Homo sapiens: one gene and its partners. The protein of the gene in region 4 interacts with the protein of the main gene of each other region in a pairwise test. Each region holds a gene or a part of one and is shown on either strand. Other genes may lie near its edges.

The links.
Region 1: the proteins of CLTA (region 4) and TACC3 interact in binary tests that used the Homo sapiens proteins (3 or more experiments, as listed by UniProt).
Region 2: the proteins of CLTA (region 4) and CASP6 interact in binary tests that used the Homo sapiens proteins (3 or more experiments, as listed by UniProt).
Region 3: the proteins of CLTA (region 4) and CLSTN1 interact in binary tests that used the Homo sapiens proteins (3 or more experiments, as listed by UniProt).

Annotation. Positions count from the first base shown.
Region 1 is NC_000004.12:1,716,815-1,724,539, reverse strand, and holds the start of TACC3 (transforming acidic coiled-coil-containing protein 3), read right to left. Parts: upstream 3,020-7,725; 5' UTR 2,897-3,019; exon of another isoform or gene 2,624-2,896; intron 1,120-2,623; 5' UTR 1,119-1,119; coding exon 957-1,118; intron 839-956; exon of another isoform or gene 813-838; coding exon 670-812; intron 1-669. Other genes in the region: TMEM129 (E3 ubiquitin-protein ligase TM129), read left to right, coding at 3,703-3,907, 5,914-6,388, 6,865-7,024, 7,112-7,360. UniProt on the Homo sapiens protein: Plays a role in the microtubule-dependent coupling of the nucleus and the centrosome. Involved in the processes that regulate centrosome-mediated interkinetic nuclear migration (INM) of neural progenitors.
Region 2 is NC_000004.12:109,688,115-109,693,458, reverse strand, and holds the end of CASP6 (caspase-6 isoform alpha precursor), read left to right. Parts: intron 1-2,449; coding exon 2,450-2,609; intron 2,610-3,890; coding exon 3,891-4,129; 3' UTR 4,130-4,831; downstream 4,832-5,344.
Region 3 is NC_000001.11:9,820,948-9,828,553, forward strand, and holds the start of CLSTN1 (calsyntenin-1 isoform 1 precursor), read right to left. Parts: upstream 3,019-7,606; 5' UTR 2,787-3,018; coding exon 2,696-2,786; intron 1-2,695. UniProt on the Homo sapiens protein: Postsynaptic adhesion molecule that binds to presynaptic neurexins to mediate both excitatory and inhibitory synapse formation.
Region 4 is NC_000009.12:36,193,909-36,200,934, forward strand, and holds part of CLTA (clathrin light chain A), read left to right. Parts: intron 1-3,642; coding exon 3,643-3,680; intron 3,681-5,070; coding exon 5,071-5,188; intron 5,189-7,026. UniProt on the Homo sapiens protein: Clathrin is the major protein of the polyhedral coat of coated pits and vesicles.

The DNA of each region.
Region 1 (7,725 bases), on a different chromosome or scaffold from region 4:
GGGCGCCTGTAGCCCCAGCTACTCGGGAGGCTGAGGCAGGAGAATGGCATGAACCTGGGAGGTGGAGTTTGCAGTGAGCCGAAATCGAGCCACTGCACTCCAGCCTGGGTGACAGAGCCAGACTCTGTCTCCAGAAAAAAAAAAAAAAAAAAAAAAAAAAGTGAAGTATGAAGTTATCCAAGTATCTGATGATCGACTTTTCTGTTAGTGAACTGGCCATATGCTGCATACACTCAGTGCAGATTTCAGGAGAAATCCAGCCAAGGCCGGCCGGGCGTGGTGGCTCACACCTGTAATCCCAGCACTTTGTGAGGCCAAGGCGGGCGCATCATGAGGTCAGGAGGAGATCAAGACCATCCTGGCTAACACGGTGAAACCCCTTCTTTACTAAAAATACAAAAAAATTAGCCGGGCGTGGTGGCAGGCGCCTGTAGTCCCAGCTACTTGGAAGGCTGAGGCAGGAGAATGGCATGAACCTGGGGGGCGGAGCTTGCAGTGAGCGGACATCGCGCCACTGCACTCCAGCGTGGGCAACAGAGCGAGACTCCATCTCAAACAAACAAACAAAAAATCCAGCCAAGGCCTGATAGAACAAGACAGCACTTTCCTGCAAGAACCATCGGACAGAGAGGGTGAAGCTCCAGCATGTCCAGCAGCACCAACACTTACTTCTCTTTCTGTGTCCAGACCGGGTGTGAGTTTTCCAGTCCAAGGGTGTCATCCTGAGTGAAAGGAGCCTCAAGTTTGCTGGCCATGCTAGGACTTAGAATCCTGTGCGTCTGTGGATCCCGCAGAGGTGTCTGAAAAGTCACCTGTTGCGGAGTGAGGAGGAGAGCACCTATTCATTAGTTCAAGCTGTTACAGCCACACCAGCAGTGTCCTGCAGCTCAGAGGTCACCAAGAAAGCAGGCCCTAGGGCAACCTGGCCAGCCACACACTGTACAGGTCACACTTACCTTCATAGCTTTGGCCAGGTTCTTGGGTGGCACATTTTCTTTCTGTGACACACGAAGAACAGACGATCTTCCGGTAACTTCTGGTGGCGAAAACAGGAAGTCGCAATTTTCTGTATTTTTTTCATTGCTGACATTTTTGTCGTTTAAGACCTGCAGACTCATTCTGGAAAAGCAGAACATGTTTGTGTCAGTGTGAGGGCAACACTACCACATTGTCCAGACACAGACGTGACAGCTGCTGCAAGGGGCACGACCACTTCCCACACAGGTGTGCTCATTGCTCTGGAACTCACACCTCCCACACGTGTCTCTTGGCAGAGAAAGCCTCAGACTGAGTCCCCATCTTGCTTCAGAGACTCACTCTCCAGCCTGGCAGGGGGAGCCATGGGCAGCACTGCTGCTTCCTGGGACCAAGAGCTAAAGGGCCTTCAGGCTGAGATGGTGAGAAAGAAAACCCAAGCCTGCATAATCTCTACTGCTGTATTACTATATCAAGCAGAAGTCAAGAGACGGAAAAGCCCGGGCCAATAAGAAACCCGGATGAGCCAGAGGAAGCCCTGGTCTCCCCACAGGCCTCTGCGTGTGACGTGAGGCAGGACCGGGCAGTAGAGGGCAGAAAAGCAGGACAGCGGCTCTGGTCTGCTCTCTCCCACCGGGCTAGGCAGCGGGACAAGACCAGGCTGAGAGGGTGAAGGCCCAGAGGAGGAGCTGGGAGACGATGCGCAAACAAGGGAAGCCCAGAGCTGAGCAACAGGTGCCAAGGAACTTCCACATCAGAGCCTCCAGTCAGTCCCAGGTTCCAGGGCTGCCCAGGTCCTCACGCCGGTCACCCACACACTTGCCACCCTTTCTGTCTACAGCGTTCCCAGTCTAGGGAATGACGTAGGGAAAAAGGCTGCCAGAGAGAACCGAGTGTCGACCAGGGCAGGAACCCCACAGGCACCTGGTGGTGGAGGGGGACCTGGGGAGGCTTTGATTTGAAGAAGAGCAAAGTTGGGGAGGGTCCTGGAGAAGAGAGAGGGGGCAGCCCCGGCAGGTCGGTGCTGCAGCTTGAGAAGCCCACTGTGGTGCTGTGTGTGGGTGGGGAGGTTAAGAGCAGAAGGGAAGCAGGGAAACCACAGGCTTCTGGAGCCCAAGGAGTAGATGCCAGACCAGACCCGGGCCTGGCCACTGGCACATATGGGACTTACGGACGACGCTTAGGTTTTCGCCCTGAATAACTGGGTACAGGGCAGGGGAAGGGGTGCTGGATCGCTGGGGGACCCGCAAGCCTCGAACTCAGGGAGAAAGTGACTCGGAGGAAGCCTTCTGGCGGCCTGGAGGAGCTCGGGAGAGCAGCAGACCCAGCCTTAGTCAGGAGGGGCCTTTACTGACTATGGAGGCCCGGGAGGGGCTCTGGGCAGAGAAGGGACCGGCCCCAGGCTGGTGCTTTGGTGCTACTCTGGTGCACAAGAGGGATGCGGTGCGGGGGGAAGGTGGAGCGGCGCAGCAGGTGCGGGGAAGCGGTAGGGGCCCAGGTGTCCGCCGCAGGCGGCCTAGATGGAGTTGGCCCCAGGACGGAGGCCGGAAGGGACCAAAGAACAACAGGAGGGTCCGCGTGCTGGGAGCCAACAAAGAGCCAAGGTGGGCGACCGAGAGACAGGAGAGGGTCGAGGAGAGCAAAGCACCTCGGGGCGCCCGCTCCGCCGTCGGTCTTGGCCCAGCTCTAGCCGCCCCTGGCCACCATCCAGGGGGCCCAGCCCGGCGGTCGGTCTAGGGCCGGGTCCCATGACAGGGCGCGGTACAGGTTCTGGCGGCGGCCCCAGGAGGAGCCGTGGGGGACGCTTCCCGGGGAAAGCGGCGGCCGGGGCGGGAGGGCGAGGGCCGAGGGCGGGGCGGGGCGGGACGGCCTCGCGCCCCCAGGACCCCAGCCTCCCCGCGCCGTGTAGCCGCTCTCCTACCTGCCCGCCCGCCCGTTGCCGGGCTCTGAGCCCGCGCCGCCGCCGCCAGGAAGGAGGGGTCCGCGTCTGCTCCACGCCGGGGGCCAAGCCTAGCTGCTACCGCCGTCGCGCTTCTAGCCCTTGATGGCCGCCGGCGCGCCGGAGTTTCAAACGCCGACGGTTGCCTTCGCGCGGCCAATCAGCGCGCGGCCGGGGGCAGGACCGCAGGAGGGCGGGCGTCCAATGGGAAGCTGTGCCTCGCCGGCTCCGCCCTCCCTCCCCCCCCACCCCCCGCTCGGGCGCCGACGGTTCCGTTTCCGGAGTGGAGGGCACGCCAGGGTGTCTGAAGCTGAGACCCCGGGCTCGCAGTCGCCCCATGAATTTCGAGTTCCGCAACTGACGCTACTGGGCGGGGCTTCATGGCCAGGGCCTCGCTCAGGCCTAAGTTTCCCCACCTGTGCTCAATGCACAGGTGCGGTGCCGCCTCCAGGGCCGGCCGAGAAGAGAGGCCGCACCCGCACGGGGACTGCATCTCCCAGAGCGCCCCGCGAGCGGCCGAGCGGCGGGACTCCATGCCCTAGAGTGCCCCGCGGGCGGCCGGGCGGCGGGACTCCATGTCCTAGAGTGCCCCGCGGGCGGCCGGGCGGCGGGACTCCATGTCCTAGAGTGCCCCGCGGGCGGCCGGGCGGCGGGACTCCATGTCCTAGAGTGCCCCGCGGGCGGCCGGGCGGCGGCCGCCGCAACCGACAGGTCCGGGACTGGGCGCTGCGGCCTCGTCCGCGCGCCGGGGCGGGGGCCTAGCTCGACAGCTTCCCGGCGGCTGCGCGATGGACAGCCCCGAGGTGACCTTCACTCTCGCCTATCTGGTGTTCGCCGTGTGCTTCGTGTTCACGCCCAACGAGTTCCACGCGGCGGGGCTCACGGTGCAGAACCTGCTGTCGGGCTGGCTGGGCAGCGAGGACGCCGCCTTCGTGCCCTTCCACTTGCGCCGCACGGCCGCCACGCTGTTGTGCCACTCGCTGCTGCCGCTCGGTGAGGCTGCTCGGGCCGGCCGGCCGCATCCTCTCCTGCGCAGGGCTTGCTGGGAGGTCAGGAGGAGGCCTCCGCCAGCTCCCCGAGGCCCCGAAAGCGCCTGGGCGCAGCTGGGGAGAGGCGCCGGTCCTCATCCAGAGGGACCGCGGCGTGGGCTGAGCGCGCTTAGGGGCGCCGCCGGCACTGACTTGCAGGTGACGGGAACCCAAGTTCAGAACCTTGGGCAAGGGATGCTCCGGCCCACCAAGTCCTGAACCGTCACGTGCCTGGGGGTTGCAAGGCCAAGCAGCCCTTGCTTGTCGTGGTTGGGGGCAGTGGCCAGGAGAAGGCAACTGTTGATTGAGTCCAACGGAAGGGGTCGGAGGGGCTGTGTGGAGGGTGGCACTGCACTAGGCCTTGGAAGGTGGGTGTGGAGAGAACAGGCGGATTTGGAGGCAGTTCCAGTTTGGGGGCGCCACAGGGGCAGAGGCTGGGGAGGGCCTCTGTGCAGTGCAGGTGGGACGCTCAGAGTTGTCCAGGGGGGTGCTGGGCTGGGCCCCAGGTGCTAGCTGGGGCTCTGGAAGGTCCCTCTCTCAGCTGATTGGATGACGGACAGGTGGGAGGTGGGGTGTGCAGTGGCTGGAGGGGGATTTCAAGGGGGTACCTCTGGAGGACACGGGGGCAGACGCAGCCCTGGGAGGACAGATGGCCAGTGGCTGGCCAGGTTTGCCACTCTGGGGATACAAGAGGGGTGACCCTCCACATCCTGGTTTGAGGATGCAGCTGCCTGGGCCCAGAAGAACTGGAGGCAGGTGTCGGGTGGAGGCGCCCAGGCCTGCCTCATGGAGAGGGTGGGCTGGGGGCCCACTTGAGAGATGGATGGGGCTGAGTGGGGCTGGGGCCCTGACCAGGCCACTTTCTAGGGCTACTGGGTGGGTTTCTGTAGCCCTTCCAGCTGCACCCTCCCCAGAGGCCTATGAGGGACCACAAGTGAATTGTGGCAGCCACACCTGGAGCAGACAGCACAGCTGGCCTCACAGTCGGATGTCAAGCTCTTTTTATTTTTAACTTAGTTTGAAAGTTTTCAAGCTTTATTAGGTATTAGTTACCTGTTTTATTTTTATTTTTACTTTTTGAGACGGAGCCTCGCTCTGTCACCCAGGCTGGAGTGCAGTGGCATGATCTCGGCTCACTGCAACTTCGGCCTCCTGAGTAGCTGGGACTACAGGCGCCCGCCACCACGCCCGGCTAATTTTTTGTATTTTTTAGTGGAGATGGGGTTTCACCGTGTTAGCCAGGATGGTCTCGATCTGACCTCGTGATCCGTCCGCCTCGGCTTCCCAAAGTGCTGGGATTACAGGTGTGAGCCACTGCACCCGGCCCCTAGTTACCTATTGTTATATGTCATGTTACCTTGAAATGCAGTGACTGGGCCAACTCCAAATGTGGACTATTACTTTTTGCCAACTGGAACCTGCTGGTGCAACTCCTCACCATCTCCATGGCTTATTTGGACCTTCAAATTGTCCTCGATCTGGCCAGCAGGGCCCTGAAGCTGGCTCCGTGTCCTCTGGACATGTCCCATCATTCTTTGAGACTTGCTTCCTTTCTCGCACATAACTTTTCAGCTCTGGGATGCACCACATTTGATCAGCCTCCTCAGAGCGGGTGAGATTGAGAGACTGAGATCCTGTCCAGGCAGCTGCCCTGGCAGGCCAGGGGTCAGCTCTGCCTGAGGTGACACCTGATTGTGTTTATTTTTCCCTTTCTAGGCTTTTGTAGTTTTTTCAACACTTACGTATTGTGTGAAACTAAAGCAGCAAATTAAAAACCTTTTCCGCTAATATATCCTGCCTTTGCCACAGGCAGGGAGAGAGTGGCCGGCTGGGGAAGTGCAGAGTGGGTAAAGCCCAATTACCCTGGGAGCTGACCCTGGAACCCGGGCAGAGGGCCAGGTCCAGGGCTGTCGGGGGGTGGACAGCGGCCTGCCACTCACTTTCCCCTGAGGCTCACCCTGTCCTTTGCAGGCTACTATGTGGGCATGTGCCTTGCGGCTTCAGAAAAGCGGCTCCACGCCCTCAGCCAGGCCCCTGAGGCCTGGCGGCTCTTCCTGCTGCTGGCCGTGACCCTCCCCTCCATCGCCTGCATCCTGATCTACTACTGGTCCCGTGACCGGTGGGCCTGCCACCCACTGGCGCGCACCCTGGCCCTCTACGCCCTCCCACAGTCTGGCTGGCAGGCTGTTGCCTCCTCTGTCAACACTGAGTTCCGGCGGATTGACAAGTTTGCCACCGGTGCACCAGGTGCCCGTGTGATTGTGACAGACACGTGGGTGATGAAGGTAACCACCTACCGAGTGCACGTGGCCCAGCAGCAGGACGTGCACCTGACTGTGACGGAGTCTCGGCAGCATGAGCTCTCGCCAGACTCGAACTTGCCCGTGCAGCTCCTCACCATCCGTGTGGCCAGCACCAACCCTGCTGTGCAGGCCTTTGACATCTGGTAAGAGTGTGGTGCCTGTGGGGCTGCGGAGGGCACATGGCAGGCCAGAGCCAGGCTCTGGTGCCACGACCCCTGGGAGGTGCTGGGTGTAGCTGGTGTGGACTCCAACACTCCTGGGCTTGTGTGACACCAGGCAAGGTGTCCACAAGACACCAGTCACTGAGCCCTCCCGCATAGCCCTCCCTCGGGTCCCCCTGCACTCTTGGCCTCCCCTTCCACTCCCTGGAGCCACCTCCCCCAGATTCTTGGGGAGCACTCAGGACAGTGCAGCCCTCAGGCTGGACAGCTGCCTTGCTCCTAGGTCCGTCCCGTGCCCAGGCTGGGCTGTCTGGCACTGGGTCCGTGGGCTCTGGCCTTAGGGCCATCTCTCCTGGTTGGTCCTGGTGCGACAGCTGCCCTGTCACTCCTTGGGGTGTAGCCTCCATCTTCCGCTCCCTTTGCCCTGCAGAGGGGCCCAGCAGCTCTCCTCCCTGCAGGCTGAACTCCACTGAGTACGGGGAGCTCTGCGAGAAGCTCCGGGCACCCATCCGCAGGGCAGCCCATGTGGTCATCCACCAGAGCCTGGGCGACCTGTTCCTGGAGACATTTGCCTCCCTGGTAGAGGTCAACCCGGCCTACTCAGTGCCCAGCAGCCAGGTGGGGGGCCTGGGCCAGGGCCGGGTGGATGGGTGGGTGCCCACGGGTGTCTGCCTGGGCTCCTGGTGACGCTCCACCTGCCCGCAGGAGCTGGAGGCCTGCATAGGCTGCATGCAGACACGTGCCAGCGTGAAGCTGGTGAAGACCTGCCAGGAGGCAGCCACAGGCGAGTGCCAGCAGTGTTACTGCCGCCCCATGTGGTGCCTCACCTGCATGGGCAAGTGGTTCGCCAGCCGCCAGGACCCCCTGCGCCCTGACACCTGGCTGGCCAGCCGCGTGCCCTGCCCCACCTGCCGCGCACGCTTCTGCATCCTGGATGTGTGCACCGTGCGCTGAGTGGGCTGGGGCCTTGAGGTGACTCTGTGTCTCCCCCCAAAGCCACAGGGCAGGGAAGGGGGTGGCTGGGCCTCCTGGCTGGCAAAGGGCTCTACTTAAAGCACATGATGTAGAGCAACTCGCCTCTGCCCTGGGTCTGCAGAAGGCTGAGGACTTTTGGTTAAAAGCAATCCTCATGAAAACACCCCACCCTGCTTGGCAGCCAGGGTACAAGTCCTGGGCACCTCCTCTTTGCCTCCCTCCTGCCCCTTTCCTGCTGGTGGGGGCAGATCCTGCACACACAGACACAGCGTCTGCCCCCGAGCCATTCCCTGGAGACCCTGGGTCTACCCCAGGTGGTCGTCATCTGGGCCATTTGCCTTACT
Region 2 (5,344 bases), on a different chromosome or scaffold from region 4:
GCCTTGGCCTCCCAGAGTGTTGGGATTACAGGCGTGAGCCACTGTGCCCGGCCAAAGATTTTGAACTACAAAAGAGAAACCTGACATGCCAGTGTCACAATTCTGTATTTCCATGAATAGCATGGAGGACATGAAATAACATTATGTTAGTCTATTCTTGCATTGCTATAAAGACCTGAGACTGGGTAATTTATAAGGAAGAGAGATTTGATTGGCCTACAGTTCTGCAGGCTGTACAGGAAGCATGGTGCTGGCATCTGCTTCTGGTGAGGCCTTAGGAAGCTTACAATTATGGTGGAAGGTGACAGAGAGCCAGCATATGACTTGTTGGGAGTGGGAGCAAGAGAGTGCCAAGGGAGAGGTCCCAGACTCTCTTAAGTAACCAGATTTCATGTGAACTGAGTGGGAGCTCACTTACACCAAGAGGATGATGCTAAACCATTCATGAGAGACCCTCCCCGATGATCCAGTCACCTTCCACCAGGCTTCACCTCCCACACTGGGAACCACATTTTAACATGAGATTTGGAGGGGACAGACGTTCAAACCGTATCAAACATGAAACTGCATTTCGCATCCTACCATAAAGCCTTGTTTTGGGGTGAGGAAGTGGCTGTAAGTGAAGAATGACTGCCTCGTTTCTGGTTTGGACAACTGCATTGGAATGTCTGTGGGACATGGAATTGGTCATACAGGTGTAGAACCTAAGACAGGTGGCCTCGGCTGGAGAAATAAATCAGGAGGTGGTCGTGGAAGCCATGGGATTAGATGAGTTTACTCGTGTTGAATACAGCCTGAAAAAGGAGCATAAAACAAAACCGAGGGGCACCCATGAGGAATGGGCTGAAGAGGGAAGATACTGAGGAGGATGGACACCAGGAGAGAAACAAGAAACAAATAATGACATGATTGTTTTGTGAAAAGGGGAGTGGCCAACACTGTCAAACACAAGAGAATTGGAAATAACTAATGAGCTACTGTGGGAAGAAAGCCACAAATGAAATCGTTTTCCAAGTTACTTTCTCTCTCTATGCCTTAGATTCTTGGTAAAAAGAGCACCTGCCTCATGGGGTGGTTGTGTGGGCAAAATCACCTGACTGATTTAATGAATGCAAACCACTTAGAACAGTGCCTGGCATACAGCACGCCCTCAGTAAAGGCTCGCTCTTACTCTTATTGCAGTTGACTGGGCAGGTGATGTCATTAGGTTAAAGGTGTTCTGTTATATTTAGGAAGGACAGTAGAAAAAAGGCCTGAAAATAAGCCTGCTGATACGAAGATTAAAATCTGCCTATAAAAACGGGATAGTAGGGATTTTCTATTTATTTTATGATTTGAAATCATTCAGGACTTTCTTTTGATGCTCATAATTCTTTAACCATTTCAGAACTGATTGATGCATTTATAATGCTACAACAGAATCTTATTGGCTGGCTGTATTCGTGTATAGGGTGACCATAACAAAGTACCACAGACTGTGTGGTTTAAACAGCAGGAATTTATCGTCACAGTCCTGGAGCTGGAAGTCTCAGATGAACGTGTGGGGAGGATTGGTTTCTTCTGAGGCCTCCCTTTTTGGCTTGTAGGTGGCCATCTTGTCCCTGTGCCTTCATATGGTCTTTCTTCTGTGCATGTCTGTGTCCCAATTTCTTCTTATGAAGACACTAGTCATGTTGGATTTGGTTTCACCCGTATGACCTCATTTTCCTTAATCACCTCTAAAGGCCCTGTCTTCCAATACAGTCAGAGTTGAGGTATTGGGGCTAGGACTTCAACATATGAATTTTTGGGGAACACAATTCAGCTTGTAAAAGTCACTTATGAGAAGAGTTTAATGTTAGCCTCTGAGTGAGTCAGAATTTAATGTTAATTATGAGTCTAAATTTAATGTAAATTCTGAGTGAGTCAGAATTAGTGGGTAAAAATTTGAGACCTCACTTTTTAATGGGCACACAAGGAAGATGGTGCATTAGTAGGTATCTCCTCAGGTCAGGCTGGATGTCATTTTAACTCCTAACAATTTATAGCAGCAGCCAGGCAAGCAAAAGTCAATCTGGAAATACACTGCCTGCCTAAACAGAAACACTTAGGTCAATACTATAGCTTTCAAAAGGGAAGGTAACACCGTGTGCCCTGGGTGTGGTTAATCTGTAAGAAATTTTAAAACCACAAGCTTTTTCCTCTACAGTATACCCTTCTACCAACATAATTTGATGTATACTTGGGGATGCCAATTTTTTCTTAAAACATTAACTAAAAGAAAGCCTAAGTAAGGAAACAACTTTGTTGGCTTTTGTGCCCTCCAAACCTGAATGTATTGCTTCTGAACTGCTCAGAATGTGGTTTCTGTTGTAATGAAGGGGTACTGGCTTACACATTCACTGCACACATTAAGCACTGGGAAGGAAACAGTAGGCAAAGAGGTGGGTTTTTCCTCCTTGTCTTGTAGGCATGTCGGGGAAACCAGCACGATGTGCCAGTCATTCCTTTGGATGTAGTAGATAATCAGACAGAGAAGTTGGACACCAACATAACTGAGGTGGATGCAGCCTCCGTTTACACGCTGCCTGCTGGAGCTGACTTCCTCATGTGTTACTCTGTTGCAGAAGGTGTGTGGTGTTTAAAACAAACATATAATTGCCTCTCTTGGCTAAGGTCCTGTAAGTTTCACCTTTGATTGGTTTGGGTCAGATCTTTCGGTTGGGACATGGTGATTCCATCCTGAAGCTCACAGACTTAGAATTTCTTTGACCACATGGCACAGAGTGATAAATGAAAGTGTAAAGTACCTTACAGAAAAATAATTCCTGAGAGTTATGTTGAGTAAAGCAACAGTCTAATTAATTATATTAGTATTAGCAGCCTACCATCAGTTACTGAGGGTGGTAGTGCCATTGTGGTAATTGTCATGGAAAGCTTTAATTTTTTTTTTTTTTGAGACAAGGTCTCAACTCTGTCACTGAGGCTGAAGTGCAATGGCATGATCATGGCTCACTGCAGCCTCAATTTCTCAGGCTCAAGCAATCCTCCCACCTCAGCCCCCCTGTAGCTGGGACTATAGGCATGCACCACCATGCTTGGCTAACTTTTTAATTTTTCGGTAGAGATTGGGTCTTGCTATGTTGCCCAGGCTGGTCTCAAACAATCCTCCAGCCTTGGCCTCCCAAAGTGCTGGGAGTACAGGTATGAGCCATTGCGTGCGTGCGTGCGTTTTTTTTTTTTATAGTCTCACTCTGTTGCCCAGACGTGTGTGTGTGTGTGTATTTTTTTTTTTTTTTAATAGTCTCACTCTGTTGCCCAGGCGGGAGTGCAGTGGTCCAATGTCAGCTCACTGCAACCTCTGCCTCCTGGGTTCAAGTGATTCTCCTACCTCAGCCTCCCGAGTAGCTGGGAATACAGGTGCCTGCCACCACGCCAAGCTAATTTTTGTAGTTTTAGTAGAGATGGGGTTTCACCATGTTGGCCAGGCTGGTCTCGAACTCCTGACCTCAAGTGATCTGCCTGCCTCAGCCTCCCAAAGTGCTGGGATTATAGGCATGAGCCACCATGCCCAACTGAAAAATATTTTGATAATGGTTCTTTGCTTTTGTAGTAAATAATTTTGACTTCTTTTTAGTAATCTCATGTCTCAATCATTGTCTATCTTGGGAATTTTTTAGGAAATGGAAGAAATTATACAGAATTAACCCCGTGTATATAAAACTATATAGAATTAATCTCTTTTCCCATTTGAAAAGAGTCAAAAAAATTTAAAAGCCATTTATATCATGGACACATCTTAAGACTCTTCTAAGGATTTTTAAGAACTTATACTTCTGTAACTAAAAAGAATACACACAGTAATTGAAAGCCAGAAAACTGCAGCAACATTTTCCTTCTCACTTTTTTAGGATATTATTCTCACCGGGAAACTGTGAACGGCTCATGGTACATTCAAGATTTGTGTGAGATGTTGGGAAAATATGGCTCCTCCTTAGAGTTCACAGAACTCCTCACACTGGTGAACAGGAAAGTTTCTCAGCGCCGAGTGGACTTTTGCAAAGACCCAAGTGCAATTGGAAAGAAGCAGGTTCCCTGTTTTGCCTCAATGCTAACTAAAAAGCTGCATTTCTTTCCAAAATCTAATTAATTAATAGAGGCTATCTAATTTTACACTCTGTATTGAAAATGGCTTTCTCAGCCAGGCGTGGTTACTCACACCTGTAATCCCAGCACTTTGGGAGTCCAAGGTGGGCGGATCACCTGAGGTCGGGAGTTCGAGACCAGCCTGACCAACATGGAGAAGCCCCGTCTCTACTAAAAATGCAAAAAAAAATTTAGCTAGGCATGGCGGCGCATGCCTGCAATCCCAGCTACTTGGAAGGCTGAGGCAGGAGAATCACTTGAACCCAGGAGGTGGAGGCTGCGGTGAGCCGAGATTGCGCCATTGCACTCCAGCCTGGGCAACGAGTGAAACTCCGTCTCAAAAAAAAGAAAATGTCTTTCTCTTCCTTTTATATAAATATCGTTAGGGTGAAGCATTATGGTCTAATGATTCAAATGTTTTAAAGTTTAATGCCTAGCAGAGAACTGCCTTAAAAAAAAAAAAAAAAAGTTCATGTTGGCCATGGTGAAAGGGTTTGATATGGAGAAACAAAATCCTCAGGAAATTAGATAAATAAAAATTTATAAGCATTTGTATTATTTTTTAATAAACTGCAGGGTTACACAAAAATCTAGCTGATTTAACTTGTATTTTGTCACTTTTTTATAAAAGTTTATTGTTTGATGTTTTTAAAGGTTTTTGAAATCCAGGAATTAAATCATCCCTTAATAAAATATTCGAAATTCATATTTTATTACATTTTTCTAACTCACATTCTTGTTCATTTGTGTAATTGATAGATGTTTTTTACTCGGTCATTTAAATGTTTAATATTTCATCTACATATGAATTACCACATTTTGTGTATGACTTTAATTCCTACTTTAAAAAAAATCAGCATTCCAGAATTGTTGTATGGCATTCTGAGGATGAAATAGAAAACATAATTCTTAGCCACTATAGGTTGAACACCTGCAAAATCTGATTCTGTCAGCATCTTCCATGTTAAGTTCCTACAAACAGTCCAACAGTCATCAGACCCATTCACACACAATCACATTAATAGAATAACAGATGTTACTTTCAAGGTTCAATTCTTATTAATATGATATAGAATCTGAATAATACTGTTTTGTTAATAATCTGCCAGAGGCTGAAGAAAGTTAACTGTTTTGGCTTCGATACCTGAAACTTGTGATTTGCAGGTTCAAAAGCAATCGTTTATATACACTGTTTCAGTTGAAGTTCAAAAAGTACCAA
Region 3 (7,606 bases), on a different chromosome or scaffold from region 4:
AACAGTGAATTTTATGTATTAAGTGGCTTCGAAATGCATTACATGGTTGCATTTTTTAAATATTCATATAAGCTTTCTATTTTCTCTGCTTCACTGTTCTATTTCCCGATCTCCATGAAGAAGGCAGGTAGCTGAAGGACATGACCGTCCAGGGCATGCCAAAGATATTTCTTCTAATATTTTGGCTTACTGAATTTGTTTTTAAGATGGAGTCTTGCTTTGTCACCCAGGCTGGAGTGCAGTGGCGCAATCTCGGCTCACTGCAACCTCCGCCTCCTGGGTTCAAGCAATTCTCCTGCCTCAGCCTCCCAAGTAGCTGGAGTTACAGGCGTCCACCAGTACACCCAGCTAATTTTTATATAGTTAGCAGAGATGGGGTTTCACCATGTTGGCCAGGCTGGTCTCGAACTCCTGACCTCAGGTGATCCGCTGGCCTCGGCCTCCCAAAGTGCTGGGATTACAGGCGCAAGCCACTGCACCCAGCTCTACTCAATGTTTTTTGAGAACTACAGCTATAATTAAAATAAAATTTGAGGGTCTCTACAAAACTAAGAGTCAAGATGCAATTTATATTAGAAAATCTATCATTTTCTGCAGCAGTCTGTACGTAATCTAACATTAACAATGATTAAAGGTAGCTACAGCATGAACAGGAGTTCATGTCGTACTGCCTTACAGCCGTAAAAAATTCAATTAGTTGAAATGATCTCTTAAAACGAGCCCACAGAGTGTCTCCAAACTGTAAATTTACATATGAAATTCACTTGTAATATTTCAAAATGAAATTGTTTATTAGCATTTCGTGTAATTCCAAGACATTTTCTAACTTGCAACCTGAAAAAAATGCATACGAATAACTGATGTGTAAAATGTCTTTATTCCGAAGACTAAGAATCTTGAACTACTGTAACTGCACCAAGAAAAACTTAGAGAAAGCAAATTACAAATGACTCAACTAGCCAACACACCTTTCACACAAGATTTCTGTCGGTCTCAGGTAATGAAGATATTCAAAGTTGAAATGTATGCTGTTTAAGTAACCAAGGCAATTAAATAATGACTAACAAATGTAGGTGCTATTTAAGAAAGCACCAATTTTAACAAGAAATGGTATCACTGACTAAATATACTTAAACTGTTCCCAAAATACCCAATCCAAGCACATATTTTTAAAATGTGTGGGTTTTCCCCAAGAGAAGCAAAACTTTTGACATTTCTCTTGGATATATTAGAGTTTCAGACCTCCAACCCACATCTGGAAAGAACATTTCAAACTTAGCTTGATGTTACTTTTAAAAATCAAATGGCCAGCAATGAGATACTTAGTGACTAAGATCTGAATTTGACAGAGTCAACAGAATGTTAGAAATGAAATAAAAGAAGTATTCAAAGTTTATCATCCTCGATGTTTAGAAAGGAACATGGAACAAAAGATGCATTTGCCGCCTCTGCCCTTTAATTCGTGAACACCATACTTCTCTCCTTATGTCACGCCAGGGAAGGGAAAATAAGAATTTTTAAAAAGCTTGCTAAATTCAAATATGACCATTTCATCTAGATTTCTATCAATCCTCCTCCCCAAAATTTCTTTTGATTAAAAAAAAATCAGAACAACAGATTTAAGCCTACAGTAGATTCTACAGACTACACCTAGATTACTCTGCTCTAAGGCCAAGGAAAATGTTTACGATTTCAAGATCCACTCAGAAGCAAATACTGTATCTGCAATGCGTAAGCTTTTCGTTGGCAAGACCAGTCAATAGCAGAGGCATGCAAGGTTTAAAAGGTTAAGTGGATGAAGGTTAAAAGCTAATAATAAATTAGCCAAGAAATACTACTTCCCACCGAGCCATAAAATAATTTCGGTCCTACAATCCTAAAAAACCAGAGAGGTTTCTCGTTTTTGTAGAGAACATCTAACCCTCCACGGTCTAAATGACCGTCAGAAAAACAGCACCAAGGCACCAGGGGTAGCAGAGACGGAGATTTCTAACACTGGGTGAGCCCGCGGTCGCAAATCTCATCGCGATTTCACCTTTGGGTGAAAAGGTGGGAGGGAAGCACTAAGTTTCAGCCTCGGCTCCACTGGAAACAGACAACGTCTGAAGGACTCTGGGAGGAGGCGGAAAGGGGCGAAGTCGTGGTGTCCGCGGTGCAGCAACACAGAATCGGGATCTTGGAAACGGGATGCGGAGGAGTGGGCTCTTATGTAAGCACACACCAAAACTGTGCGTGCACCCCCCGCCTGATGCACATCTGAGCACACGTACACAGAGCATCTCACCCAGGGGTGCAGCCCCAGCCTGCGTGCGCCGCTGAGCAGGGCGGACTGACCCTTCGGCCCGTCTGCACGTTCCCCCAAATCAGCGCAGCCACCACCATGGGCTGCAGTGGGGGCAGCCCAGGCTCAGGAGCCCCGCCCGGGACGGAGCCTGGCTTCCCCGGGACGCCTGCAGCGCGCGCCCACAGTCTCCTGCGCCCTGGCCCCGGCTCCGCGAGCCCGACCCCCAACCCGAACCCCACGCCCTGACCCGGCTCCCTGCGCTCGGACCCGACTCCCCGCATCCCGGCTCGAATCCCGGCATCCGGCCCTACTCCCGCACCCGGACCCGAATCCCCGCACCGGGACCCGAATCCTGCACCCGGACCCGAATCCCGCACCGACCCAGCGGCCCGGCCCAGCCCCGGGGCTTACCTCGCGCGGCCCAGACCCCGCCGCCGCACAGCAGCCCGGCCAGCAGCAGCCGGGCGGCCGGGGCCAGCGCGGGAGCGGGGCGGCGCAGCATCGCCAGCCCGGGGCGGGAGCGGCAGGGAGGCGCGCGGGACGCCGAGCGGAGCTCTCGGAGCTCTCGGGGCTCTAGGGGCCTGGGGCTAGCTGCTCCGCGGCGCGGGGAGCTCCGGGGGTCCAAGGAGGAGCCGCCGCCGCCGCCGCCGTGACGCTGGGCCGCGCGCTCAGGACGCGGCGCCCTCCCCGCCTCAGAGCAGCGTCTTGCTGAAGGCAGCGGCAGCAACTAAGATGGCGGCGGCGCTCTCTCTCGGGTCCGGCGAGGGTACCCGGCCGGGGGCGGGGTGGCGGCGGGAGGGGCGGGGATGGGGAGCGACGCGAGGCGCGCGCGCGGCGGACCCTGGGAGCGCGCGGGCCCGGGAGGGGCGGGGGAGAGGAGCGGAGGGAGCGCGCGCGGCGGACCCGGCAGCGGGCGCGCGCCTCCGAGCCCGTCGGCCCCGCCTGGAGCGCGCGCCCGCGGGGACGCGCCTGGGGTGGGTTCCGAGCGGCCGGGAGGGGCCCGGGGGACTGTATCCCTTTCCCTGGCCGCAGATGGAGAGCCTCAACTCCGCGTCCCTACGCGCGCTCCCGGGCTCCTAAGGCCGGGTGAGCGGTACCCGGGGACCCGCTCCTCCTTCTCCACCCCGAGGACTCATCCTTCCCACCCGCTCCGCCGAGGAGCGCAGACCCCGGCGGAGCAGTGCGGCCCAGGACCCTTGTCACTTCGGGCAGGTCGCGTCGCCCCCCAGAACCTCGGGGTCCTCGTCTCCCCAGTAGAGGTGTTGAGAGGGGTCACGAAAGGGGGTCCAGGAGACGAGGTCAGCGAAACGCGCCTGGTAAACAGTTAAGGGCCGCGCAGCACTACCCACACCGGCTCCCGCCCCGGGACCTGCCCCCGGGGAGTCTGTCCTGAATTCACTGAAGGAATCTATTTGTGACTTTCAAAAGGCGGCTGGTGTGCGCGCTCTTTCTCAGTGACATGGTGCGATGCTGGTTCTTAGAAATGCGGAGGTCCGAATGGATAGAGAGGACAGAGAAGCCCTCCCCCTCTACCGTGGATCCCTACAGGGATCTTGGGGTCCTCCCAATTTCCCAGCGTCCAGCGGCCCCCTCCTCCTCGCCTCTGGACCCCTGGCACCCCCCCGCAGTGGAGGAAAGGCCTGGAACAGCCGTGGATGGGCGTGTGTGCAGGCACTGTACCCTATGAGACACTACTGGCTCCATTTTGCAGATAAGGAAACTAAGTCAGAAAGGTGAAATGACTTCCCCCGTTGGGACAACTATTGTAAAAAGAATCAGCCCTCAAGGACAGGATGTTCGCATTAGGGGGACACCAACAGCAAAAAGTGGAACCCTAAAATGTTCATTTTTCGAGACCGCTGGAGGAGCTATCCATGAATGTCACTGCTCCAGGTGGGGGTGGAGGAGGCTGGCAGCACTGGAGGCTGGGTGGAGACTGGTTTGTGGGGCGCAGAGGACTTATTTAGGAGACTAGTGGGCAAAGAGCCCAAAAACGTAGACTGAGGTCAGATTGGGGGAATGGACTTGATCCTACAGTCAACAGGAAGACCTGGAACGGCTGGGAACAGCGGTGTGATGTGACCTGGGGAAGGCTTCAAAAGCAATCTGGAATCCAACTCCCTGAGCCGTGTTCCCCGTAAGCGTCCTGCACCAAAGCCTACAGATTCCATCTTGTTAATGTCTCTCCTTCCTTCCCCTGCTCCCCCTCCCCTGCGTGGAGGAAGACCGGACTCTCCTTGGCTGGACCCTTCCCAAAGCACCTGCCTGGCCCGGGCAGGCTCCAAGCCACACCCACCACTCCTTCCAGCCAAGGCTTTGAGTCATCCTCTCCCCTGGTGACGGGTGTTGCCATTGCTTCTGCCCCTCCTGGAGTTATAAACTCAGTGAGTGCCTCCCTGCTGCCACCTCGTCAGGTCCAGACATCTCTGCTGGGCTTCCCATCCTCCACCCAGCTGACCTCAGGGCATGCTGTCTGCCACTGTCTCTTCTTATTCATTCCCCTCCCAGGGCCAACATCACACTTCCTCCTCCACCCATACCCAAGCCTCAGGTCCTTACAAGGAGCTTCTGGGCTGTCTCCTTCAGGAAGTCCTCCTGCCAGCCCTCCCTCTCCAGCCCCGAGCTGCTCTAACCAAACAGTTCAGCTTTATAATCTGCTGCCTGTGCTGTCGACTGACTAATCCATCAGTGTCCTTTTCTCCTCCCCACTGTATTCTAGTGGGAAGGACCCAGATGGTCTAGTCAGACGGGACTGGACTTCAGTGCTGGCCTCTGCAAATGCAAACGACCTTGGCCAGGTTATGGAACTTTCAGAATCTCCTCACCTGCGAAATGGAACAATATGTACTTCTTAGAGTTGTGAGAATTAAATGAAATGATGCCACATAGATCTAGAAATACCAGGCTTTATGTGGCAAATAAATGAAAGTGCCACATAGAGCCTGGTGTTTCTAGATACATGAGTTTCTTTTTCCCTTCAAGAAGAAGGCTTCTGTGCTTCTAGTATACCAGCGATCAGAGTAGGTACTCAATAAATAGTGATGAACTCAATGAATTGCTGAGTTAGGTTTTATTATTATGGAGCTCACATCTCAGAGGGTGAAAAAAGATGTACCCTGTAGATTTCCAGGGACCTTCGAGATTTGCAAAACATAAAATCGGAAAGGTATAATCTCAGAACTATGTTTTCAGTCCATAGACTGATGATGCCAAAAGGGGAAATTTAATGTGTTCAGTTCTATTAAAAACACAAACAAAAGCTCTTCAGTGTCTGGAATCCTGATCCCTTTATCTTCTCACCCTTACTGTCCCTTAAAGAAACAGAGATAGGTCAAAAAGATCCAGCGTCAGGTGGGGCAGATAGACGGCTTGGTGAGCTCAGTGCAACCTGCACCTGCTGGGATTTCACCCACATGAGAGTGAGTCCAGCTTGAAAGTCTCGGAAACGGGGGAACCAGTAAACTCAGTTTCTGCTCTGCCTGACAATAGCCTCAGCCACATTGGCACATTTCAAAGGTTTCCCCCATGATGGATTAGTTAATCCTCCAAATGGCCCTGAGACAGGGATCGATTCAGGCTTATGCTATGGTTAGCTGGGAGAGGGGCCTTGCCTGAGCTGAGCCAGCCACTGACAAAGTGGCAGCATCAGAGGCCCTGGAGCCATGGGGAATGAGGCATCACCCAGGCCCATCCTGAACTGGGAACATAGACTTGAGGATAAGGAGGTGACTTTGTTAGCTAGTGGAGGAAGATCTGTACTTTTGAATGTATAGTGACTCTATCTGAGACAGTAGATGAAGCGCACACAAGAAAATTTTCCAAGATGCTGCACCTTCTGAGATGACTGTTGCTGATACCATATCACAATAACATATCATCTGTAACTCCAGCAACACTCTCCAGAAGGTATTTTTGGCCAGGCACAGTGGCTCATGCCTGTAATCCCAGCACTTTGGGAGGCTGAAGCGGGCAGACCACTTGAGGCCAGGAGTTTGAGACCAGCCTGGCCATCGTGGCAAAACTTTGTCTCTACTAAAAATACAAACATCAGCCAAGCACGGTGGCAGGTGCCTGTAATCCCAGCTACTTGGGAGGCTGAGGCAGGAGAATCACTTGAACCTGGGAGGCAGAAGTTGCAGTGAGCCAAGATGGCGCCACTGCACTGAAGCTTGGGTTAACAGAGCAAGACTCCAACTCAAAAAAAAAAAAAAAAAAAGGTACTTTTATTGTTCCTATTTTACAGATGAGGAAAATACCAAATTTGCTCCAGAGTACATTGCTAGAAAGTTGGATCCCTGAGATTCAATTTCATGTCCATCTGAACCCAAAACGGTGACTTAGCCTCAGTGTGAAATTACCCCACAGATACCAAAATAACCCCTGCACAGGATTCCACAGCTTGGAGTCAGCCTGCTCCCCAACAGTGAGAAGGTGGGGCTTCGAGCAAGCCCTGGCTTTGCCACCTCCGACTGTTGAGGCCGATCTCAAGCCTGGACTTCCTCACCGGGGACATGAGTTCCCCGGCCCGGAGTTGCGGTGAGGATGAAATGAGATCACATGCAGGAAAGCTCTTAGGCAGCAATGCGGAGCCGCGGAGCCATTCTCAGGCGGGCGTGTTACTACTGTTTTGCACAGTGTGGGCTTGGCGGGTGTTTGTGGAGCGGAGCCGGAGGCAGGTAAGCAGTTATTATAGCCGCTTTCCTAATAATGTGCTCGGGAACAAACCCACTTGAAAGCGGCAGCAGGAGAAGGTTATGAGAATCTTGATGAAAGCAGCTGATTAGAAACTCCTGGAAGTTCTTTACTGAAAGAACCGCAGCACCCAGAACCACCACCAGGGTCCCCCTCAGAACCCCAGAAATTACAAGGTGTGGCCTCATCTCTGTGTTCTCGTGTGCCGGCCAGGTCATTTCGTTGCTGTTAAAAGGGATAATTAACGAGAAGGAAAATGATGCTGTGCTTAGGAGCAAGGACTCTGGTTGGACAGAATGGTGCAAATCCATTTCTGTCCACTTCCTTCCTTTTGGTAAAATTTCAATTTAATTTTGCTTTATAGTATATTAAATATTTGGCTGGGTGCGGTGGCTCACGCCTGTAATCCCAGCACTTTGGGAGGCCAAGGCGGGCAGATCATTTGAGGTCTGGAGTTTGAGACCAGCCTGGCCAATACTGCAAAACCCAGTCTCTACTAAAAATACAAAAAAAAAAAAAAAAAAGGCCAAAGTGGGCAGATCACCAGAGGTCAGGAGTGTGAGACCAGCGTGGCCAACTTGGCAAAACTCCAAGTTTAGTCTCTACTAAAAATACAAAAATTAACTGGAT
Region 4 (7,026 bases):
GTGGTCATGAAGGAGGCAGCACAAGTGGAGCTGTTGAAAAGCTCTCAATCATGAGGGCTGAGTCGGGGAAGAGAACAGGAGAGACAAGCCACAGAGAGAGTACAGCAGTAAGGCACTATTATGGTGTTTTGTTGTTTTTGAGACAGTCGCTCTGTCACCCAGGCTGGAGTGCAGTGGTGCGATCTCGGTTCACTGCAACCTCCGCCTCCTGGGTTCAAGCAGTTATCCTGCCTCAGCCTCCCGAGTAGCTGGGATTACAGGCGCCCACCACCGTGCCCAGCTAACTTTTTGTATTTTTAGTAGAGACGGGGTTTCACCATGTTGGCCAGACTGGTCTGAAACTCCTGACCTCAGGTGAGCCACCCGCCTTGGCCTCCCAAAGTGCTGGAATTACAGGTGTGAACCACCGCACCCGGTGACAAGTTATTTCTTGTAGGAGAAGAAAGAGACATGGGTGAATTAAAGGGAAGCTTTCTGGAGAAGTAATTTTATTGGTAGCAGTGGTGGAGGGAAGTTTAGGGAAATCTCATGCATGATAGTTAATTGTACTGCACATTTGCTGTATACCAGGTACACTTTCAGATCCCAGCAGTAGCTCCACAGGTTAAGTGGTAGTGTCATATTTCAGATGAGAATGGATCGGTGTGGAAGTTGAGCAGTGTCACTAAGGTAGCAAGGTAATAAATGGCTCAAGTGCAGCTTCAAACGTAGGTCTGCTTGACTTCAAATGTTTCTGGAATGTGGAAAGTTGAAAGTGGGTTTGGGACAGTCTTTCACTTTTGAAAACTGGCCCTTTTTCTGTCTGGAGTTCCTGAAAGGCCCTAGAAAGTTTCCTTCTGAAGCATCGTGTTGCTTAGTTTAGTTGTTGTAGTAAGTCAAGGCCCTACATGTCCTTTCTGCATGTTTCCACAGCAACAGACGATCCCTTGGCTTGAGCCAGTTGATTCTTGTAAGAATGTTAGTGCAGTAATACAGTAACTAATAAAGAGGAAAGCAGATGCCAGTGGGTCTGGAGGAGCCTTCAGACAGCATGTGATTTTTAAGGAGATGTGGGATGAGGATTGCTTCTTGTTTTGTATATGGAGTAGTGATCAAAGTCTCTCATATTCCAGCCCAGGGCTGGACTATATTAGTGGATAGTTGGTATGTCAATTGTACTATATTAACCATAATGTAGGCCTGGCCAGACTAGCCACTGTAGGATCTAGGATTTAAAACTATCTCACTCTTCTGTCTTACACAAAAATAAATTCCAGGTGGATTAAAGAGAGACATTTAAAAAGTAAAAGAAGAAAAGTGAGTATTTGTCTATCTCATAATAGGAAAGGCCTTCAGCATAAAAGCAGATACAGAAATCATGAAGAAAAAGTCGATCATGTCTACATACACAAATTAAGTTGTTCCAAGTGTTAAATACCATAAACCAAATCAAAAGAGAAACTAGGGAAAATATTTGACTATTAGAGAGCAAATACTTAGAGATCAAAAAATAGCAGGAAAATAGGCAAACTCAGAAAATTCAGTAAAGAAGAAAATCAGGTGTCGGGTATGTGATTACCTCACTGGAAATAAGATTGGCACAACAAAGCCACCATGAGTTTGTTTTTTTTTTCCATTATCAAATTAGCAAAAATTTTAAAACATGATCAAGCACAGTCCCTAGTATCAGGGAAGGTCTAAGAAATGGGGCACTTGTGCTGCTAGTAGTAATATAAACTGGTAGACTAATAGGAACAAGTGGGTAGAATTTTAGAAGTCTTTGAAATACATATCCTGGGCCAGGTGCGGTGGCTCACGCCTGAAATCCCAGCACTTTCGGAGGCTGAAGTGGGCGGATCACCTGAGGTCAGGAGTTTGAGACCAGCCTGACCAACATAGTGAAACCTCGTCTCTACTAAAAAATACAAAAATTAGCCGGGCATGGTGGCACGTGCCTGTAATCCCAGCTATTCGGGAGGCTGAGGCAGGAGAATCACTTGAACCTGGGAGGCGGAGGTTGCAGCAAGCCGAGATCGCGCCAGTGTACTCTAGCCTGGCCAACAGCGTGAGACTCCGTCTCAAAAAAAATAAAAAAATACATATCCTGGCTGGGCGCAGTGGCTCATGCCTGTAATCCCAGCACTTTGGGAGGCTGAGGTGGGTGGATCGTCTGAGGTCAGGAGTTCGAGACCATCCTGGCCAACGTGGTGAAACCCCCGTCTCTACTAAAACTACAAAAAAAATTAGGTGGGCATGATAGCTCACGCCTGTAGTCCCAGCTACTCAGGAGGCTGAGGCAAGAGAATCACTTGAACAACCCAGGAGGTGGAGGTTGCAGTGAGCCAAGATTGCACCACTGTACTCTAGCCTGGGCAACAGAGCAAGACTCTCTCTCAAAAAAAAATAAAATACATATCCTGTGATCCAGCAATTCCTTTTTTTTCTTTCTTTTTTCTTTTTTTTTTTTTTTATTTTTTGAGATGGAGTCTCGCTCCGTCACCCAGGCTGGAGTGCAGTGGCGCGATCTTGGCTCACTGCAACCTCTGCCTCCCGAGTTCAAGCAATTCTCCTCTTTCAGCCTCCTGAGTAGCTGGGATTACAGGCTCATGCCACCACCCTGGCTAATTTTTGTATTTTTAGTATATGGAGGTGGGTTTCACCATGTTGGCCAGGCAGGTCTTGAACTCCTGACCTCGAGTGATCCTCCCACCTTGGCCTCTCAAAGTGCTGGGATTATAGGTGTGAGCCACCGCGCCCAGCTGTAACCCAGCAATTCTACACCAAGAAATTTATTACAGAGGCGAAATTGAATATGCTTCCCCCATGCTTTCACTAGTTTGATAAACTTCATATTTCCAAAACTTTATAGAGTGCTTAAAAAACTACATAGGTAGGTGGCACATGCCTTAAAGTGGTAAAAGGCCACTGACAAACTATAAGAAACTCATTTTTGTACTGACATATAGGAGTAAAAGTCAACTAGGAAAATTAAGAAAAATATGAGAGGCCAGGCATGGTGGCTCATGCCTGTAATCCAATACTTTGGGAGACCGAGGCGGGTGGATCGCTTGAGTCCAGGAAATCGATAGCAGCCTGGGCAGCATGGCGAAACCCCCTTCCTACAAAAAAATAGAAAAATTATCCAGGCGTGGTGGCGCATGCCTGCAATCCCAGCTCCTGTGGGGACTGAGGTGGGAGGTTCGCTTGAGCCCAAAAGGTCGAGGCTACAGTAAGCCATGATTGGGCCACTTTGCTCCAGCCTGGGCGACAGAGCAAGACTGTCTCAAAGATGAAGCTGCAGGTCTCTGCTCACTATGGGTGATTCCAGGCCACACTTTTTTTTTTCCCTCATGCAGAATTTTCATAGAGAAACACTGTTCTCTTTCTGCTAGTCTTCCATTTGTTACCACTGTAAAATAGAAAACAGAAAATAAAATCAAAAGCTTTTGGACTTGGGAGCTTAAGGACAGATGTGTACACATTTTGGTGAAATTTGTATATAAGCACATCTTGGTTTTATTTGTTGTATATAGCACCTACCACAGGGATAGCATTTAGTAGCTCAAGGTTCATACAGCATATGATGCTGTATTCTACTGTACAACCCTTTGGCCCAGTGTTTGACCAGTCCTTATTGATAGACCAAAATCTTATGTCTTGCAGATGCTGTTGATGGAGTAATGAATGGTGAATACTACCAGGTACAGAGTACTCTGATTCTGTTCATTGATAGTGATTGAGAATCTTCCTTTCCTGTGATTTTAATTGACTGACCTAGAAAGAAACCCCAGTCCTTTGACTTTCCTGAATGTATTACTGGCTGGTGTGTTATCTACCAAAGTGGAAAGATTTAAAGAGAGGTAGCATTGATAAAAAGAGAACTGTTTAAAAATGTTATTTACCTGCCCCTAGTGTTATCACCTTTATTCTAAAGAAATCACCATTCAAATGATACTGTGTTGAGTGCAGTAAGTTAATACTAATACTTTAAATAATTCTCCTTCCATCTTTGTTTATAGTCTGATTAGGTTAACCTGGTAATATTAATATTCCTTAGTTCAGTGAGTGGCATATGGAATAATTTTGTAAAGATTAACATTTATTTGAGTCTTTTTTTTTTTTTTTTTTTTTGAGACAGTCTCACTGTCGCCCAGGCTAGAGTGCAGTGGCACGATCTTGTCTCATTGCAACCTCCACCTTCTGGGTTCAAGCGATTCATCCACTTCAGCCTCCTGAGTAGCTGGAATTACAGGCGCATGCCACCACGCCCGGCTAATTTTTTGTATTTTTAGTAGAGATGGGGTTTCGCCATGTTGGCCAGGCAGGTCTTGAACTCCTGGGCTCAAGTGACCATCCCGCCTTGGCCTCCCAAAGTGCTGGGATTACAGGCGTGAGCCACCGCACCCCGCCAGAGCCACCGCAACCTTGGCTCACTGCAGAACCCGTTTCTAACAACAATGGCGGCTTTTGTAAAATGTTAAAGGATTACCTTAAAAGCAACAACACAGGCCGGGCACGGTGGCTCACGCCTGTAATTCCAGCACTTTGGGAGGCTGGGGTGGGTGGATCATTTGAGGTCAAGAGTTCGAGACCAGCCTGGCCAACACAGTGAAACCCGTCTCTGCTAAAAATACAAAAATTAACCAGGCGGTAGTGGCATGTGCCTGTAATCCCAGCTACTGGGGAGGCTGAGGCAAGAGGAGAATTTGCTTGAACCCGGGGAGTAGAGGTTGCAGTTGGCCAAGATTGCGCCACTGCACTCCAGTCTGGGTGACAGAGTAAGACCCTGTCCCGTCCCCCCTTCCCCCACCCCAGAAAAAAAAAAAAAAAAAAGCAACCACATAGGCCAGGCGCAGGCACCTGTAATCTCAGCTACTCGGGAGGCTGAGGCAGGAGAATTGCTTGAACCCGGGAGGTGGAGGTTGCAGTGAGCCGAGATCGTGCCACTGCACTCCAGCCTTGGCGACAAGAGTGAAAACTCTGTCTCAAAAAAAAAAAAAAAAAACAGAACCAGGGGTTCTAACTCAGGTGAAGTGCATTTTAGGAAGGAATTTTTGGTATTAATATAGCACAATTGTGTTTTGTGTTAAGGAAAGTAATGGTCCAACAGACAGTTATGCAGCTATTTCACAAGTGGATCGATTGCAGTCAGAGCCTGAAAGTATCCGTAAATGGAGAGAAGAACAAATGGAACGCTTGGAAGCCCTTGGTAAGGAATCCCTTCTGTGTTTTGGTGTCTGTTTTCAGTGGAGTAGTTGAGCTGGACTCTACTTTTATTCCTTTTTAGCTCACATTAACCAGTGTCATTGTCTGGTCTTTGGGAAGATATCTTCTCAGCCTGAAGGTTACAAGGCTACCTGCACAGAGATGCCTAATCACAGGCCATTGTGTGAGGAGTAGGGTAGCCGGAGATCCCCAAGATCCTCTCACAGGAAGAGCATAGTGATGCTGCTCCTGACCTCAAGAGTAGCCTCAGGTGGTGTTTATAGAGTGCTTTATAAACTTGAAGGATTCAAGTTTCCTATGTCCGTGGACTTTAACAGTCCATTTTTCTTTTTTCTTTTTTCTTTTTTTTTTTTTGAGATGAAGTCTCACTCTGTTACCCAGGGTGGAGTGCAGTGGTGCGATCTCGGCTCATTGCAAGCTCTGCCTCCCGGGTTCACACCATTCTCCTGCCCTCAGCCTCCTGAGTAGCTGGGTCTACAGGCGCCCGCCACTACGTCCCGCTCATTTTTTTTTTGTATTTTTAGTAGAGACAGGGTTTCACCGTGTTAGCCAGGTTGGTCTCGATCTCCTGACCTTGTGATCCACACACCTTGGCCTCCTAAAATGCTGGGATTACAGGCGTGAGCCACCGCGCCCGGCCTCCATTTTTTATTTGAAGGCTAAATGAATTTAAAGTAACACGAGGAAAATGAGGTATGTTAGGAAAAAATGTACAATTTGTTTTTCCTACCTTAATATCTCTGTAAGGTAAGTTTTACAATTTTACAGGTAAGAAAAGTGGAGGAGAGGTAGAATAAGTATTTGGAATACTCAGCTAAGGAATGGTAAGAGTCACAATTTCAGCTGAAGTCTGCCTTGCTTCAAAGTCACTACCCATCCCCATCAGCCACATTGCTTTCTAAACATTTAATGTGCGTGGCCATCTAGCCACACAGCCTGGCCTTTGATAAAGAGATGTGTACGTGGAGTGTCACCTGTTGGTTCATGATCAGGGGAGACTTGTGTCTGTACATGGTGGATTGGAGAAGTATGCAGAGTGTGAGGATATAATCCACATTGTGGCCTTTTCTTTGTTTTTTCTTTTTCTTTTTTTAATCAGCTGACTTTAAGATTCATCTTTTCTCAACTTTACAGAACAATTGAAAGGAGGAAAATAAACATGTGCACCCCCAGATTCAGTAATTAATGGATTATCTTTATATAAATGATATGTTTTAGACATACACACACACAAATTGTTTTGGCTGACCTACTTTAAGATAAAGACATCATATACTTTGTGTCTAAATATTTCAATGTACACCTCCTAGAAATAATGACATTCTCCTATGTAACCACAACGTCAGCAGTATTATTCCCTCTTGGGAACTGTTGAACTAGTGAAAACATGAGTCCTTATTTTTCAGATGGGATAACTGACACCCAGAAATAGGAAGGGACATGACCCAGATGACACAGCCAATTAGTGCCAAATCATTTATCTCTCTAGTCCAATTTAGGTGGCTTTCAGAACAAAGAATGCACTTAGTATTTGAACCTTTATAGCACCATTCATTAGTGATTTCTTTGGTGGAAATATTCTGTATCTGTGCTGTCTCGTATGGTAGCCACTAACCACATGTAACTGTTAAGTACTTGAAGTGTGGCTTCACAATTCAAGTGTGACTGAGAAACTGAATTTTAAATTTTCTTTAATTTTAATAAATTTACATTGAAGTAGCCACATGTAGCTAGTAGCTACCATATTGGACAGTGGAGCTGTAGGAAGATGAAAATAGGTCCTAACAGCTTTGGTCCTTGCTTGTTCTTTGTGTCTCTTGA